2 separate regions of the Homo sapiens genome follow, and region 1 is linked to region 2. A link means that fine-mapping ties the variant in region 2 to the expression of a gene that starts in the linked region. Tissue or cell type: whole blood. Region 2 holds a variant in brackets; the other region holds the start of a gene. All regions are shown on one strand. Distances are from middle to middle.

What was found. PIP is the estimated chance that this variant, and not a neighbour inherited with it, causes the effect.
Region 1: it holds the start of RUBCN, and the variant in region 2 is fine-mapped to the expression of RUBCN in whole blood (TOPMed, PIP above 0.99).

The regions. Positions count from the first base shown.
Region 1 is chr3:197,733,561-197,741,664 of GRCh38, reverse strand. RUBCN (rubicon autophagy regulator) reads left to right here and starts at 4,761. Exons shown (of 20, transcript NM_014687.4): 1 at 4,761-5,010. The coding sequence starts at 4,946. RefSeq lists silencers at 2,006-2,138, 4,498-5,047 and enhancers at 4,636-5,483, 6,414-6,463.
Region 2 is chr3:197,692,116-197,700,219 of GRCh38, reverse strand. It overlaps RUBCN (rubicon autophagy regulator), which reads left to right. Exons shown (of 20, transcript NM_014687.4): 8 at 3,171-3,266; 9 at 4,239-4,354; 10 at 5,635-5,845; 11 at 6,404-6,505. Among named protein-coding and RNA genes, the nearest start is that of MIR922, 22 kb to the right of the region's middle. The variant C/G (reference allele first, on the strand shown) is at 3,203.

The DNA.
Region 1 (8,104 bases), 41 kb before region 2:
GAGACAGGATTTCACCATGTTAGCCAGGCTGTTCTTGAACTCCTGACCTCAAGTGATCCTCCCACCTCGGCCTCCCAAGGTGCTGGGATTACAGGCATGAGCCACTGTGCCCAGCCAGTTCCTATATAATTGAATAAATGAACCACTACTAAGTGCTTAGAGGGGATGGAAATGTTGCTATAAAGACAGAATAAAAGCTAAGTAATTAAAACTTGGCAAAATTCTTCAAAAGCTTTTAAAATCATCTCATCAGATGAACTACTATAAGCTTTATATATGCCTAACAGAAAAAGAATTTTGGTAAATCAGTAAATTTGGTAAAGTCAGTGAATTGGTCATTTGGCAAAATTGGCTTAAAAGACTTTTAGAAATGCTACCTATGGGGAAAACATAAATTAATTTTAAACTGTCTTTAAAGTTAATCATTACAAGATTAAAAATTTCCATGTGAAACACTAAAATTTTTGTTATATTTAGCAGGATACAGTCATAAGAAAACAAAACCATACTAAGATCATTGACTATTTTTTTAGGTCCCCATGAAAGCAGAACCTTGACTATTTTTTAAACTTGCAAATGTAGAGAAAAGTTGCAAAAATAGTGCAATGAATACCCATATATCCTCTACTTCGCCAATTAATGTTTTGCCACATTTGCTTTCTCTCTGTATAGAGGTATTAGTTGTTGTTAGACAATTTGAGAGAAAGTTGCAGGAATTATGACTCTTTAGAATCTATTTCTAAGGGCTGTGTGCAGTGGCTCACACGTGTAATCCCAGCACTTTGGGAGGCTGAGGTGGGCAGGTCACTTGAGGTCAGAAGTTCGAGACCAGCCTGGCCAACATGATGAAACCCCGTCTCTACTAAAAATATAAAAACTAACTGGGCGTGGTGTTGGGCACCTGTAATCCCAGCTACTCGGGAGGCTGAGGCAGGAGAATTGCTTGAACCCAGGAGGCACAGGTTGCAGTGAGCTGAGATTGTGCCACTGCACTCCAGCCTGGGCAACACAGCAAGACTCTGTCTCAAAAAAAAAAGAAAGAGAATATATTTCTAGGGATATTCCTTAACATAACCATGCTAAAATTACCAAGTTTAGAAAATTTAACATTGATGCTGTACTATTATCCAATTATGGTTCATGTTCAAATTTTGCCAATTATACTACAAAATTTCTTTTTCTTTTTCTTTTTTTTTAAGATGGAGTCTTGCCTTGTTGCCCAGGATGGAGTGCAATGGCATGACCTCAGCTCACTGCAACCTCCGCCTCCCAGGTTAAAGAGATTCTCCTGGCTCAGCCTCCCGAGTAGCTGGGATTACAGGCGTCTGCCACCATTCCCAGCTAATTTTTTGTATTTTGTATTTTCAGTGGATCCATGATCCAGCCTGAGTGACAGAGCGAGACTCCATCTCAAAAGAAAAAAAAACAAAAGAAGGGGTTCAGGATTATGAGGGAAAGTAGAGGGATGGGATAGGTAACGCATGGCTAGTGCAGATTATTGTCATGTTTATTAATGGCTTTAAAGAAAATCCAGTACATGTAACTTGAACTTGGACATATGAGAAAAAGCCTGTTTTCCAGCCTTTTTGCTACAATTTTAGTTTTTGGATTTCTTTTTTTTCTCCCCAAGACAGTCTCACTCTGTCACCCAGGGTGGAGTGCAGTGGTACAATCTCAGCTCACTGCAACCTCTACCTCACGGGTTCAAACGATTCTCATGCCTCAGCCACCCAAGTAGCTGGGATTACAGGCGTGTGCCACTACACCCGACTATTTTTTCTTTGTATTTTTAGTAGAGACAGAGTTTCACTATGTTGGCCAGGCTGGTTTCGAACTCCTGGTGTCAAGTGACCCGCCTGCCTGGGCCTCCCAGTGTTGAGATTACAGGCGTGAGCCACCGCTTCTGGCCCCTAGGATTTCCTGATAAAGCTGATTGCCTTTTTTTTTGAAACGGAGTCTCCCTCTGTCGCCCAGGTCTAGCTCTGTCTTCCAGGCTGGAGTGCAGTGGCGTGATCTCTGCTCACTGCAAGCTCCGCCTCCCGGGTTCATCACGCCATTCTCCTGCCTCAGCCTCCGGAGTAGCTGGGACTACAGGCGCCCGCCACCACGCCCGGCTAATTTTTTGTTGTATTTTTAGTAGAGACGGGGTTTCACCGTGTCAGCCAGGATAGTCTCCATCTCCTGACCTCGTGATCTGCCCGCCTTGACCTCCCAAAGTGCTGGGATTACAGGCATGAGCCACCACGCCCGGCCTTTTTTTTTTTTTCTTTTTTCAGACGAAGTCTTGCTCTTATCGCCCAGGCTGGAGTGCAGTAGCACGATCTCGGCTCACTGCAAGCCCTGCCTCCTGGGTTCAAGCCATTCTCCTGCCTCAGCCTCCTGAGTAGCTGGGATTACAGGCGTCTGCCACCATGCCCGGCTAATTTTTTTGTATTTTTTAGTACGCCTGTAATCCCAGCACTTTGGGAGGCCGAAGCCGGCGGATCACCTGAGGTCGGGAGTTCAAGACCGGCCTGACCAACATGGAGAAACCTTGTCCCTACTAAAAAATACAAAATTAGCCGGGCGTGGTGGCGGATGCCTGTAATCCCAGCTGCTCAGGAGGCTGAGGCAGGAGAATCGCTTGAACCCGATCGCGCCATTGCACTCCAGTCTAGCCAACAAGAGTGAAACTCTGTCTCAAAAATAAATAAATAAATAATATAGTGTTAATTTGGGATTATACTGTATGCCAAAAAATAAAGTTCATACATTTATAGAACTAGAAGTAAGGCCAGGTATGGTGCCTCATGCCTGTAATCCCAATACTTTTTGGGTGACTGAGGCAGGAGGACTGCTTGAGCCCAGGAATTTGAGACCAGCTTAGGCAGCACAGTGAGACCCTGTCTCTACCAAAAATTAAAAAAAAAAAAACAAATTAGCTGGGCATAGTGGCACTGCCTGTGGTCCCAGCTACTTGGGAAGCTGAGGTGAGAGGATCCGCTTGAGGAGGTTGAGGCTGCAGTGAACTGTGGCAGCGCTACTGCACCCCAGCCTGGGTGACAGAGCAAGACTGCGTCTCCAAAAGAGAAGAAAGTCACAGAAGGAAGAGAAATCCCAATGAGTAATATTGCCCCTTTCTTAAAGAAGTATAATCGTTTAGTAGGAAAATGAGAAAGTTTGAAAGAGAGTATTTTTTTAACCTAAATGAAATCATAAATGGCTTCAAGAGGCTCTTTCATTTCATTTTTAATTGCCAAAACACTTTTGTCAAGTTTGAAAATACCTAAAAGCCATATATTATTTTAATATAGAGTCATTAGTTTTTCACGGAGTTATTCTTGATCGCTCTTTCTCCCTCACTTGCCACAGTCAGTCCTTTATAGAGTAGTGCTGATTCTGTTGCCTTCACATTGCTGTAATCTGAGCCTCCTTGTTCTCTTCAACCGCTGCTGTAGTTTAAGCCTGGGTTTGCAAACTAGCAACTCAAGGGCCACCTTCAGCCTACAGACAAGCTGTGTTTGGCCTGTGCAAAGTTGAAAGTTTAAAAAATTTGTTGCCAACGTTTAAAAATTTGGAAGTAGTGCTTAAAAATGCAGATCCTAGCTTCTTTTAAAAAATCAAAATATCATAGCTAGGTGTGGTGGCTCGCACCTGTAGTCCCAGCTATTCAGGAGGCTGAGGAAGGAGGACTGCTTGAGCCCAGGAGTTCCAGGCTGCAGGGAGCTATGATTGCGCCACTGCACCCCAGCCTGGGCGACAGAGAGAGACCCCGTCTTTGAAAAAGAAAAAAGAGAAACCAGAGTATCTGGCAACCCTAGGCCCACGTTTCTTTCAACTGGTTCGCTTCACTTCTTAGCATTACTTGGTTATCCCCCATAAGGATGACCAGTCTCCTATCTAGCCTTCCACCGTTACCTCAATATAGTATTATATCTGCCCCATCTCCTGTCCACATTGTCAAAAGTGGCTTTCTCATCAGATTCGATCAAATCACTTCTTGATTTGCATATGCTTGATTTGCTGATTGTTTTCAGGATAAAATCCAAACTCCTTAAAATGGCATTTCATGATCTGGTTTCCCCACACCAGAATGCCCACACCATGCTGCTGCTCACTCCTTCCCAGCTCTGGCTACCCAGCACCTGCAGTTCCCAAGCCAGCACTTCCTTCCTTGTATCTGCCGTGTTGCTCTCTCCACCTTCTCTTCTTTCTCCTGGCTAACCCGTACTCAGCCTTGAAAACTCTGCGTTGACATCCATCTTCCGAGAGCCCCCAGAAGCCTTTCTCTCCTGCTCTTTTATGATCCCAAAGCAACCTGTGCTCTTGTTTGTGAGCGCTTCATTTAAATGCTCGAGGTCTCCAAACACCACCAGCGGACATTAAGCCAGGGCGGGCTGAGTGGGGTTAATCGTACCGGGATTAGATTAGCGTTATTGCCTAGTCTACATCTCGGACTGAGTTCGGTCCCCAGCGTGTAATGTCACGGGGGTGAATAAGGATACGCCCCGGCACGGATTCCTGAGACCAAGGTCCCCCGCCGCTTGCAAGCCGGCCCAGCCAACCACCGGGTGCGTAGTAATCCACGAGCGCGGCCTGGGATTGGAGGGCGCGGCCTGCGGGAGCGGCCTGGGATTGGAGGGCGCGGCTTGCGGGAGCGGCCTGCCGTTGGAGGGGCGCGGTCTGCGAGCGCGGCCTGGGATTGGAGGACGCGTCCTGCGGGAGCGGCCTAGCCTCGGAGTGCTCGCCGGGGGCTGTAGTCCCCGGAGCCGGAAGTGGGGGTGGCCGGGATAGAAGCCGCAGCCCAGGCGGCGGTCCCTCCCGCTGTCGCCGCCCGGGTGTAGCGCATCACCCGGAGCCCACCGGCCGCAGGTGCCTCCTCCGGCCCCAGGGGGCCCCGGGAGCCCTGAAGGGCGAAGCGGCAGGGACGCCTCTCTTGGGCGAAGAGGCGGCCTCACCGCCCCGGATGCGGCCGGAGGGCGCGGGAATGGAGCTCGGAGGCGGCGAGGAGCGCCTGCCTGAGGAGAGCAGGTGGGCTGGGAGCCGCCGCGGAGTCGGGGCAGCGACAGGCGCCGGAGCCCCGGGAGGCTTGGGAGGGCGCGGGGTCACGGAGAGAAGGGCCGGGCGCGACGAGTCTTGAGGACGACGGCTGCGGAGGACTTGTTTGGGAAGCATTTCGCAGAGGAAGGACGGGCGGGGCGGGGATGGGACGAAGGAACCGGCTTAGGGTGAGGAGGGTGGGTGGGATTTGCGGAGGGCAAGGGCAGCAGAGGAGGGTGAAGCTCAGATCCAAGACTGCTGGAGAGGAGGTGGCAGCTGAGAGACTGGGCGAAGAGGCCAGAGGGGTGCAGTGAGGTTTTACAGGCCAGAGTCTATAGACAGGGGCAGGGCACCACCCGGACTGAAACTTGCCGTGACAGCAAGTGGGGCCAACGCGAAGAGGATGTGAGAATTCCTGGGAGCAGAGGTGAAGCGTTATGAGTGGCCTCGGAAGAAGCTTAGGCAGAGATGAGCATGGGGATGAAGGCGAGGAGAGCCTGGGGAGAAAGTGAGCGAGTGTCATGGCAGTGCGGTGGGGCGGGGACTGCTAATGAGACCAGAAACTCTGCACTTTGTCATTGCCGAATCCCTGTCAGAGAGTGGCAGGACCTCTGTGCCATTTCCTTTTCGTCTTCAAACCTGTCCCTTTTTCCTCACAATGCAAACTAAGCAAGTTCACATTTATTTATATGGAACCATGTCAGAAAGCTCATATCTTCTAGAAATTGGGGGATTTAAAATATAAAAACTACTTTGGACCGGGTGCGGTGCCTCACACCTGTAATTCCAGCACCTTGGGGGAGGCTGAGGCGGGTCGCTTGAGTCCAGGAGTTTGAGACCAGCCTGGGTAACCTAGGGAGATCCCCGTCTCTACAAAAATACAAAAATTAGCTCGGCGTGGTGGTGCTCACCTGTGGTGCCAGCTACTCGGGAGGCTGAGGCGAGAGGATCACTTGAGTCCAATAAGTCGAGGCTGCATTGAGCCGAGATCGCACCACTACACTCCAGCCTGGGTGACAGAGGAAGACCCTGTCTTCAAAAAACAAAAAGCCAAAGAAACCCCGAACTACTTTGACTAAATGATGAATCGGAGTCTGTAGAGATGCCTTCCATATTTAGGGTTTGCTTCATTAATAACTCTGGTCTTAATCTTTTTTAAAGAGGCTGGAATGCTGACAGGCGAGAGCAGGAATGTGGCTTAAGGGAGTCATACTTGACATTTATTATTTTATTTTTATTTTATTTTTTGAGACACAGCCTCACCCTGTCCCCCAGGCTGAGCGCAGTGCCGTGAACACGGCTCACTGCAGCCTCCAACTCTTGGGCTCAAGCGATTATACTAGCTCAGCTTCCCAAGTAGCTGGGGATATAGGTGCCAGCTACCACATCTGGCTACTTTAAAAAACTTTTTTGTAGAGACAGGGTCTCACCATATTGCCCAGGCTGGTCTCTAACTCCTGGGCTCAAGCAATTCTCCCCCGCCACGTCGGCCTCCCAAAGTGCTGGAATTAACAGGTGTGAGCCACCAGGCCTGACCTCACTTGACATTTAGAAACAGTTTCAGATATAATGATGGTCTCAGGAGCAGCTGGGATCCAAAAACTAGAAGCAGAATATTTACCTCTGAGAAAATATCAACAAGGGAAGATTTATGAGATGTTCCTGGGTGAAGACTTGCTATTTTTAAGGGTGACTCTACTTTTATGTGCAAAGTGGCCTGTTGAACAAAACCTGGACTGACAGGACTTTGGGGCTCCTGCCTGAGATCTGAGAATGATTTGTGCTAAGTGAAACTGAACATCTTACTTCCCTTTTCCATGTTTCAGTTTCTGCTTTGCCTATTTGACTATTTATTCTTCCTGCAGATGTCTGTGACGTGCTTCGTGTGAAAGGTCCCATGTAAATTCTAAACACGTTTTAGGATTGTTTTGATTTCCCTCTACCACTTCATGTGAGGGAGGCTGGGTTAGTTATTTTTTTAATGTATGTAACAAATGCTATTTACCACATGCCAGGAATTGTTTTAAGGTATTAAGATATGAATACTGCGTTAACTTCTTTAATCCCTATAACTATTGTATGTGGTCGGTACTACTGTTATTGCTGTGTCACAGATGAGAAAGCTGAGAAATGGACAGGGTAAGTAACTTGCCAAGGTTGTACAGCGAATCCCTGGCAGAACTGGATTCAAACCCAGGCAGTTCGGCACCAGAGTCTGCGCTTTTTTTTTTTTTTCTTTTTTTAGACAGGGTCTCACTATGTTGCCTAGGCTGGTCTCAAACTCCTGGGCTCAAGATATTCTCCAGCCTCGGCCTCTCAAAAGTGCTGAGGTTACAGGCATGAGCGACCATGCCGGCCCAAGAGACTGCACTTTTTTTTTTTTTTTTTTGAGATAGAGTCTTGCTCTGTCGCCAAGGCTGGAGTGCAGTGGCACCGTCTTGCTTCACTACAACCTCTGCCTCCCAGGTTCAAACAATTCTCCTGCCTCAGCCTCCCAAGTAGCTGGGATTACAGGTGCCCGCCACCACGCCCAGCTAATTTTTTGTATTTTTAGTAGAGACGGGGTTTCGCCATGTTGGCCAGGCTGGTCTCAAACTCCTGACCTCAGAGGATCTACCAGCCTCCGCCTCCCAAAGTGCTGGGATTACAAGCGTGAACCACCGTGCCCGGCCCGAGTCTGTACTTTTAATACTCACCCTATGCTGCCTCTCACTATGCTAATAGTAACAACGGAAGTATAAGATAGTGAATAAATTTCACAGCATTCTGTGCCTGTCATTCAGGCCAGTAGGATAGCTCCTTTGCAGAATCTTTTCCCGTCTTTTATTCTTTTTATGATTGCCTCTTAACCAAAAAACTTTAATCAAAACTTAATTTTAGTAGTGGGGTTATCCTCACAAAGTCACTCCCGTCATTGTTATAGGCATACTGTGTTGGCGGCTGATTAATTCAGAATGCGTTGTTTAATGAGGCTTCATGGTACTGATGGCCTCCTTAGCTCCAGATACACAACTGGTAAATACACATTCCTTGTGCCTATTAATTGAGGCTTTGTGACTGGGTTACTGCAAACATAACCTTTCTA
Region 2 (8,104 bases):
ATGTGAGAGAGGCAGAGAGATACTGGGGTTTCTAATTAAAACGAAGGCTATAGTGAGTGCAGGGTGATGCGATCCAGCAACTGAGTCGGTGGGGCTGACGGCCGCATCACTGATTCAGGGTGAGAGGCCGTCAGATAAGGAGGCCCTGGCAGCTGGGACCTCCCTCACCAAACACCAGCTGATAGCAGGGGCAGCCTACTCGTGGGGAAGGTGGGGCTCCTTGCTTTTGCCATCTCCCTGCCATCATCCTTCCCGGCTTGTGGTATCCGGCAGGCTTTGGTTGGGTTTTGTTTGTAGTAGGATCTCCATAAGAGGAAGTATAGCATGGAGCTTTGTGCTCAAAGCCATTCTGGGTCAGGAAAGCCCCAGAAATAAAATATAAAAATAAAATGTGAAAAATTCAAGGACCTAAAAAAAAGAGGGGGCGGTTTCTTTAGCAACTGGAGATAGCGTTGCTTTCTCTTTGTAATTTCTGGAAAGGTGAGAGCTAAGGCCCTCATCTGAAACCTTCAGAATTACAAACTTTTGTCTTTGTTTTCCCTCAAGAATGTGATTTAACTTGTTGGAAATCTTGAGGAGAAGAATCTCCAAATCAAAGCCTGTCTTCCCATGAGCTTTCTTAGATGTGAAGATGACTGGGCTGGACCCTCACTTCACATCTCCTGCTGCAGGCCTGATGTCTGCCATACTCCAAGCCACTGGCCTTTGAGCATGTAAAACTTTCCCGCCCCATTCTTGAATCCATATGGATTCCAGTGGAATCCTGCCTTGGAAAAAGGGAGCCCGCGAAAATGTGTGCGGAAGGATCTGAGGAAATATGGGTCACGCACAGCTTCTTGGACAAGCCATCCGTCCTTCACAACTGGGGTTTCCTCTTGGGAGTTCCATCCCCACTTCTGCTGGGTAAAATTTAGGACACTTTTTTTCTCTCTCTGTATTCTCATTGCTCTATCTGGACTCTCCTCTGCACCTGTCTGTCTACCGGCAGGAGGCCCCAGGAATATCACCATTATAGTTGAAGATCCCATTGCAGGTTTGGGAATCGGTCCTCCACCTCCTCTTTGTTCTGTTTTGTGACCACCTTTCTTAGTTCAGAACCTCCTTCAGTCTGGTGTCAAATCAAGTCTGGCTAGCCTGGTCTTGTTGTGATGCTTGGAACTGTCTATAAAATGATACCAGTATTTCATATGATGTGTTTTCTATACACAATTCCAAATGCCTCGTTCAGTCTCTCAACAGCTTCTGGGAGGCAGAGTCAAGACTTATCAATTCAGTTTTGCCCAAAGGTGAAACTGAGGCCTGCTATTTGTCTGAGGCATCATGATGAATCAGTAGCAGACTTTTTTTTCTTTTTTTAAATTTTTTTTACTTTTTTTTTTTTTTTTTTTTTGTAGAGACAGGGTTTCACCGCATTGCCCAGGTTGGTCTTGAACTCCTGGCTTCAAGTGATCCTCCTGTCTTGGCCTCCCGAGTGCTGGGATTACAGGCGTGATCCACCACACCTGGCCCAGAATTTTTCTTATAACTGAATACTTCCTATGGATTACTTTATTTTCCTTGAATTAACACCAGAATGTATTTTATCCCCTTTCTGTGGTCTTAGATATACTTGCATGTTTGGTTTTTTTGTTTTTTGTTTTTTTGTTTTTTTTCCCTCTCCTGCAGTTCCGTTTCCTTTTTCTTTCACCTGTTTTCATTTCCCTATAAATCCCTGCACCCCATTCCAGCTATTGCATAGGATTCTTCTAGTTATTTCAGTCTGTTTCCTTGGTGTTCATGGTGGTGTTCAAACTGAGATTTGTGTTCCATCCTGGGTACCATAATTCATGGACATGAACACTGGAATGTGTCTGCAAGGCAGAGTATTGAGAGAGGGCTGAAAGCCGTGGCCTCCTGGAAGTGGGTGAGGCCATTGGGTATGTTAGCTTGGAAAACAGATGGTTAAAGAGGAATAAAGTCTGTAGGACCATCATTTAGAATAGCGTTCTTCTTAAGGAGATAAGAAATTGGAAGAAGGCAGATAACGAGTGTAAGGGAATTCTAAGAATTAGTTAAATGGTGGCATTAGGAGGTAGTGAACTCAGTAAGTAAAGGCTGAATGGCCACATGTTGTAAAGAGGTTAAGGTCGTGTTGGAGTTTGTGTTGTGTGCTGTTTGGGAATCTTGAAGGTCCCTTCCAAGTCATATCATGGTTTTTTACCAAGGCATCGTGGCGACTACTAGTTTGTCCTCAGTTCAGTAGGAAGGAACAGAGCCCACAGCCAGGGCTACCAGAAGTCTTTGAGGCCCAAGAAGAACACAAAATTGTCTCTTGCACAGAGTAGCATTTTTTGTGAGAGGAGCAAGTTGGTAACATCTGTCAGGGAAATGGGTTAGATGCAGCTCAGTCATTCACTCTCCCACAGCATCCTGCTCATTTTCAAGCACCCACCTGCTTTTCCACCTGTTCTTCCTTCTGTGGTCCTGGAAATGTTGTGTTTCCTTGTGAAGAATATCAGTTTCTCATTCCTGCAAACCCTGCCTGCTACTGTTCTCCCTCCCAGCTCTCGCTCTTCCTGTCCCAGGCATTGTCTGTCTCGCCAGCCTTCCCTCCCTCCCTTCTTCAGTAAGGCCGGGCCGAGCCCCGTAACGGAGCCCTTTGCTTACAGGGCCCTCTCCCTGGGCTTCTCCAGCACTGCCTTGATGCTTCTTTTTAGGATGCTGCTGAATTTTATTTCCTTAGTGAATGTAAATCTTCTGATGTTACTTTAAAACCTAATGTCAAGATGTCAGAAAAGTTTCAATGCACTTGTCTTTGTTTTACCATCTAAAGACTTTTCTAAATTGGTTTGTCAAGAGGATAGGAATCAGCTGATATTCCTGTAATGTTTGGTTAAAAGATGTAAGGAAAGAGAAGCAAATTCCATGAATCCATTTTGATTTGATTCTTTCCTTTATGTTGCCCCATTCTGGATCACGTTTCTTCTTTTCCACTTAGAATGTACTGACCTGCCATCTCCTTCCCTCCCTGTGTTTCTGTACCCTTGGGCTGTTCCGTTGGTGTGCCGCCTCTCTCCTGCTTGGGAGGGCTTTGGGAAGGGGTGCAGTTAAGTGTTGAAACTCCAGAGTTGGGAATGTACCTGTTGCTCATTTCGTATGTGTTTTTACTCGCTGGTGGTCATCGTCATTAGAATCCTGCAATGATAAGGCGAAGTTGAGAGGC[C/G]CTTTGCCCTACTCTGGTCAAAGCAGTGAAGTCAGCACACCCAGCTCTCTGTACATGGAATATGGTGAGTACTAGGAAGGCCAGGGCTAAAATTGTATATTTTCTCTGCTCACCCCTTGTGCCTGCTAAGTTCTGAGTTTTGGGGTTCATCTCAGCTCTCTGGAGGGTACACACTGTTACAGTCTCAGTCACTCTTTTGTCATTTTTAACCCCCGTGCTAGAAATCACACTGCTCTGCCATTTCTCTTGCTTCTCTCTGACTTGGGGGTCCCACCCTCTCTTACGTGCTGGGTGTTCGCACCGGGTACGTCGGCTGGTCCAGATGGGATGGCTCTCTGAGTGGATGAGATGGACCTTGAAAAGAGGCCTTGGAGTATCTGGGCTTAGTAACCAGCAGACAGACTCTATGTGGAAATCATGCAGAGGAGGAAGCCATTTGTGTCCTTTTCTGCCTCCCAGCCCAAAGTTCTACATTTTTATTTTGTTTTTTCTTTACTGTATGGTACGAGGGAGAGCATGTTCTCTTTAATTTTAGATGGCAGAAGGATTCTCTCTGTTTATTCTACCGTTTTCCAACCAAGAGGCTTAGTGCTCTGGGATTCTAAGAGTCCAAGAAATTCTTTTTTGTTTTGTTTTTTTTTTTTTGAGACAGAGTTTTGCTCTTGTTGCCCAGGCTGGAGTGCAGTGGTGCGATCTTGGCTCACTGCAACCTCCGCCTCCCAGGTTCAGATGATTCTCCTGCCTCAGCCTCCTGAGTAGCTGGGATTACAGGCATGTGCCACCATGCCCAGCTAATTTTTGTATTTTTAGTAGAGATGGGGTTTCACCATGTTGGCCAGGCTGGTCTCAAACTCCTGACCTTGTGATCCGCCTGCCTTGCCCTCCCAAAGTGCAAGAAATTCTTTTAGAAGGTGGACATCTTCTTCCAACCTCTAATTCCCAGTTACCTGGGAAGACTTGGGAGCATCTTTAATGACAAAAGCTTAAGACTTCCTGAAGAAGCCTGGCTGTTTCATCCACATTCCATTTCCCACAGAAGGTGGTCGGTACCTGTGCTCAGGGGAAGGCATGTTCCGAAGACCATCAGAAGGACAGTCCCTCATCAGCTACCTCTCTGAGCAAGACTTCGGCAGCTGTGCCGACCTGGAAAAGGTGGGAAATCGAGGGCCTCATGAAGAGCTCATGAGTTGGGAGATTGGGTCTGAAGGTCTGTGGTGCCATTTGTTCTGATGAGGTTTTGGGTATAGATTACAGTAAAGATAAGTTCACGGTAAAGGGAAGCTCAGCAAGTTCTGTTTCTGAGGAACTCTGCAGGGAGCATGTGCCCCTCACTGAGTCCAAATTATTAGCGATTTTATCTTAGAAGCCAACCTGGGCAGAGAAGCATCAAGTTTGTGTGTGTGTTTTTGTTTTTTTGAGACAAGAGTCTTGCTCTGTCACCTAAGCTGGAGTGCAGTGTCACGGTCATGGCTCACTACAGCCTCAAATTCCTGGGCTCGAGCAATCCTCCCGCCTCAGCCTCCCGAGTAGCTGGGACTACAAACATGCACCACCACACCTGGCTATTTTTTTTATTTTTTTGTAGAGATGGGGGAGGTCTCCCTGTGTTGCCCAAGCTGGTCTTGAACTCCTGGGCTTGGCCTCCCTAAGTGCTGGGATTAACAGGTGTGAGCCCATGTGTCTGGGGTCTTGAACTCCTTGGCTTGGCCTCCCAGAGTGCTGGGATTCACAGGTGTGAGCCACTGCGTCTGGGGTCTTGAACTCCTGGGCTTGGCCTCCCAGAGTGCTGGGATTCACAGGTGTGAGCCGCTGCGTCTGGGGTCTTGAACTCCTGGGCTTGGCCTCCCAGAGTGCTGGGATTCACAGGTGTGAGCCGCTGCGTCTGGGGTCTTGAACTCCTGGGCTTGGCCTCCCAGAGTGCTGGGATTCACAGGTGTGAGCCGCTGCGTCTGGCAGCATTGTTTTTGCTGCATGATTGCGGTTCCCTTGACTCTGGCACCTTAGGTAAATACTGTTTCCAGAATCAAATTCTATCTTTTGTTCTAAGGCTCAGATAAGCAATAAATGACATCTGTGTAGCATTTTATAGACTACAAAGCACTTTTATCTTGAGACATAGCATTTATCTTAATATTTTGTGTACAGGTGTATGATTTTGGGAAAGAACCTGATTGAAATCCTGGGCCTCTTCTCTATCATATTTTTATGTAGAAATGAGACAGGAAGGGACAGGCTTGGCAAAGTAAGAGAGTGAAGAAAACCTAGAATAGGTTTTCCAGCCATCAGCTTTCCTCGTAGTAGAAATGTCCATTTCTCCAGGGTGTTTTTGGCAGGAACAGTTCCTATCTTGGAAACTCCCTTTTCCACATTATAATGAGTATGTCATTCAATACTTCTAACCCTTTGCCTGTTTGGTGCTCTCCTTCCGCCAGGAGAATGCCCACTTCAGCATCTCAGAGTCCTTAATTGCTGCCATCGAGCTAATGAAGTGCAACATGATGAGCCAGTGCCTAGAGGAGGAGGAAGTGGAAGAGGAAGACAGTGATAGAGAGATCCAGGAGCTGAAGCAGAAGATCCGCCTTCGGCGCCAGCAAATCCGCACCAAGAACCTGCTCCCCATGTACCAGGAGGCTGAGCACGGAAGTCAGTGGAGCCTGTGGATGCTTCTGTTCCCACATTTTCCCAACTTCAGCATAAGGCCTGGTGCCCAAACCAGTGGTTCCTCTGCTGTCAGATGTTTCTATGTAGTCCTACTTTTTTTCTATCATGCTAGGAATACTCATCCTAGAGTCGCTCCGTTTCCTGCATCAGAAATACCTGCCTTCCAGGCCAGGCAGAGTGGCTCACGCCTGGAATCCCAGCACTTTGGGAGGCCGAGGCGGGTGGATCACTTGAGGCCAGGAGTTTGAGACCTGCCTGGCCAACATGGTGAAACCCCAGCTCTAAATATATATATGTATATATATAAATAAAGGAATAGCTCCCTTCCCAAATAGCTTCCTGATATGAGGAGACCTAAGAACACTGCTCCCAGATTTGCTTCCCAGATAGTAGTACCTTCTATTTACTTGAAACTTTCTAAAGGGAAAGTTTCCATTTCTCTCTGTTGAGGTCATATCAGATCCCTTATATTGTGACACTGGAAGGACAAGAAGACCTCTTTCTGCCCTGTTTATTCCTTTTTGTTTTTAAACATAACAGGCTTTCGGGTCACCTCCAGCAGCTCCCAGTTCAGCTCACGTGATTCGGCACAGCTCTCTGACTCTGGCTCTGCTGATGAGGTTGATGAATTTGAAATCCAAGGTAAGAAGTGACACTTTGTTACAAGGGAACTTTTATTCTGTTTCTTTCCATTTAGAATGATAAGCTGCGAAGTGTTTCCTAAGTAGAAGATCTTCATTATGGATTGTTGTTAGCTATTGTAAGGGACAGCCTTCTGCTAAAAACAAAACCCCTTCACAGTTTCAGTAGGGAAGAACACTGGAAGCAGGTGTTCCAGGTGGATGGAGTGGCTGCTCGTTGATGTCACCCTGACGCGTCCTCCTCAGTGGTGTCTTTCTCCTGGGTTCCCACTCTGACTCCTCCTTTCAGCTTGTAGGGCTGGTCCATACCACTTGAAATTAGAATCCTATTCTCTTGGGTTCCATAACACAACTGAAATTGTTTCAGAGTGTTCAAAAGAGAAAAGGACAAAAAGAATCATTGGGGGCAGGGGGACAAAAGAGGAAAAACATCAGGTTTACAAAGTAGAGCTTGAATTTCTGCCCTTGCGGTCGGTGCTCACTGCTCAGCACAGTCACAGACTCTGTTTTTATTGGTGGTGGTGGTGGTGGTAGGAGTATCAGCATAGAGGAACAGTGGGGTTCCAGTCTGGGAAGGCAGTTATGTTAAATCAGGTTAATGTCCCACTCCTGCAAATCATAGATCTCTTCAAGTTCCCATCAGCAAAACAAACACACAAACAAAAAAACAGTTCAGGGACAAACGCTCTTCCTTCATGGGTGAAACTAAGAGTAGTTTCCTTACTGAAGTGAATGGTATCTATAATTCTCTGTTACAACATTGTGTATGTAGACAGAGGTGAACTGTATCTATAATTCTCCATTATAACATAATGTGATGACAGATAGGTCTTGTGTTGCAAGAGGCTTTGATTTCCTGTTTACACAATCTAGAGAGCCCATTCGCCTGCACAGGCCTCCAGATGGAGGAACCACATGTTTCTTCCCATTCAGAAACTCCGTTTTTTCACACATTTTCGAGGTATTCAGGAAGTCTTCCTTCTATGTTCTCCTTAATGTCTCTGATTTCTATGTATGACAACAATAGGTAGTCATTTAAAACTCCTTTTGTTTGTTTGGTTGTTTGTATGTGATTTTCCAACTCCTCTCCAATTCTCTACCATCAGCTGGGTGACTTACAATTTAGCTCTGACACTAACTACCTGGAGTTAGCACGGATCCTGCAGCTACAGTCCTGTGAAATTAATTCCGCTTCAGATGCCAGACACAGGTCACCAAGCTACCTGCCCTTCTGCTTGTAGGCTGACTACAAATTCAGAGATTCCCACGACCCCCTTCCCCAAGGCAGGATAATTTGCTTGAATGATGCCCAGAACTTGGGAAAGCTTATGCTTATAGTCTGTTGTAAAGGATCCAAATGAGCAGCCACATGAAGAAGTACACAGGGACTAAGGAAGAGATCACGAGCACAGGAACTCGTCCTGCCCCCGTGGTGTCTGGGGCACCACCCTCCCAGGTGCATTGATGTGTTCGCCAACCAGGAAGCCTGGACATCATTGTTCAAGTTTTTATTGAAGTTTCATTATATAGGCACCATCGATTAAGTCATCGGCCACTGGTGACTGGGCTGAGTCTTCGATCCCTCTCCCCTCCCTGGAGG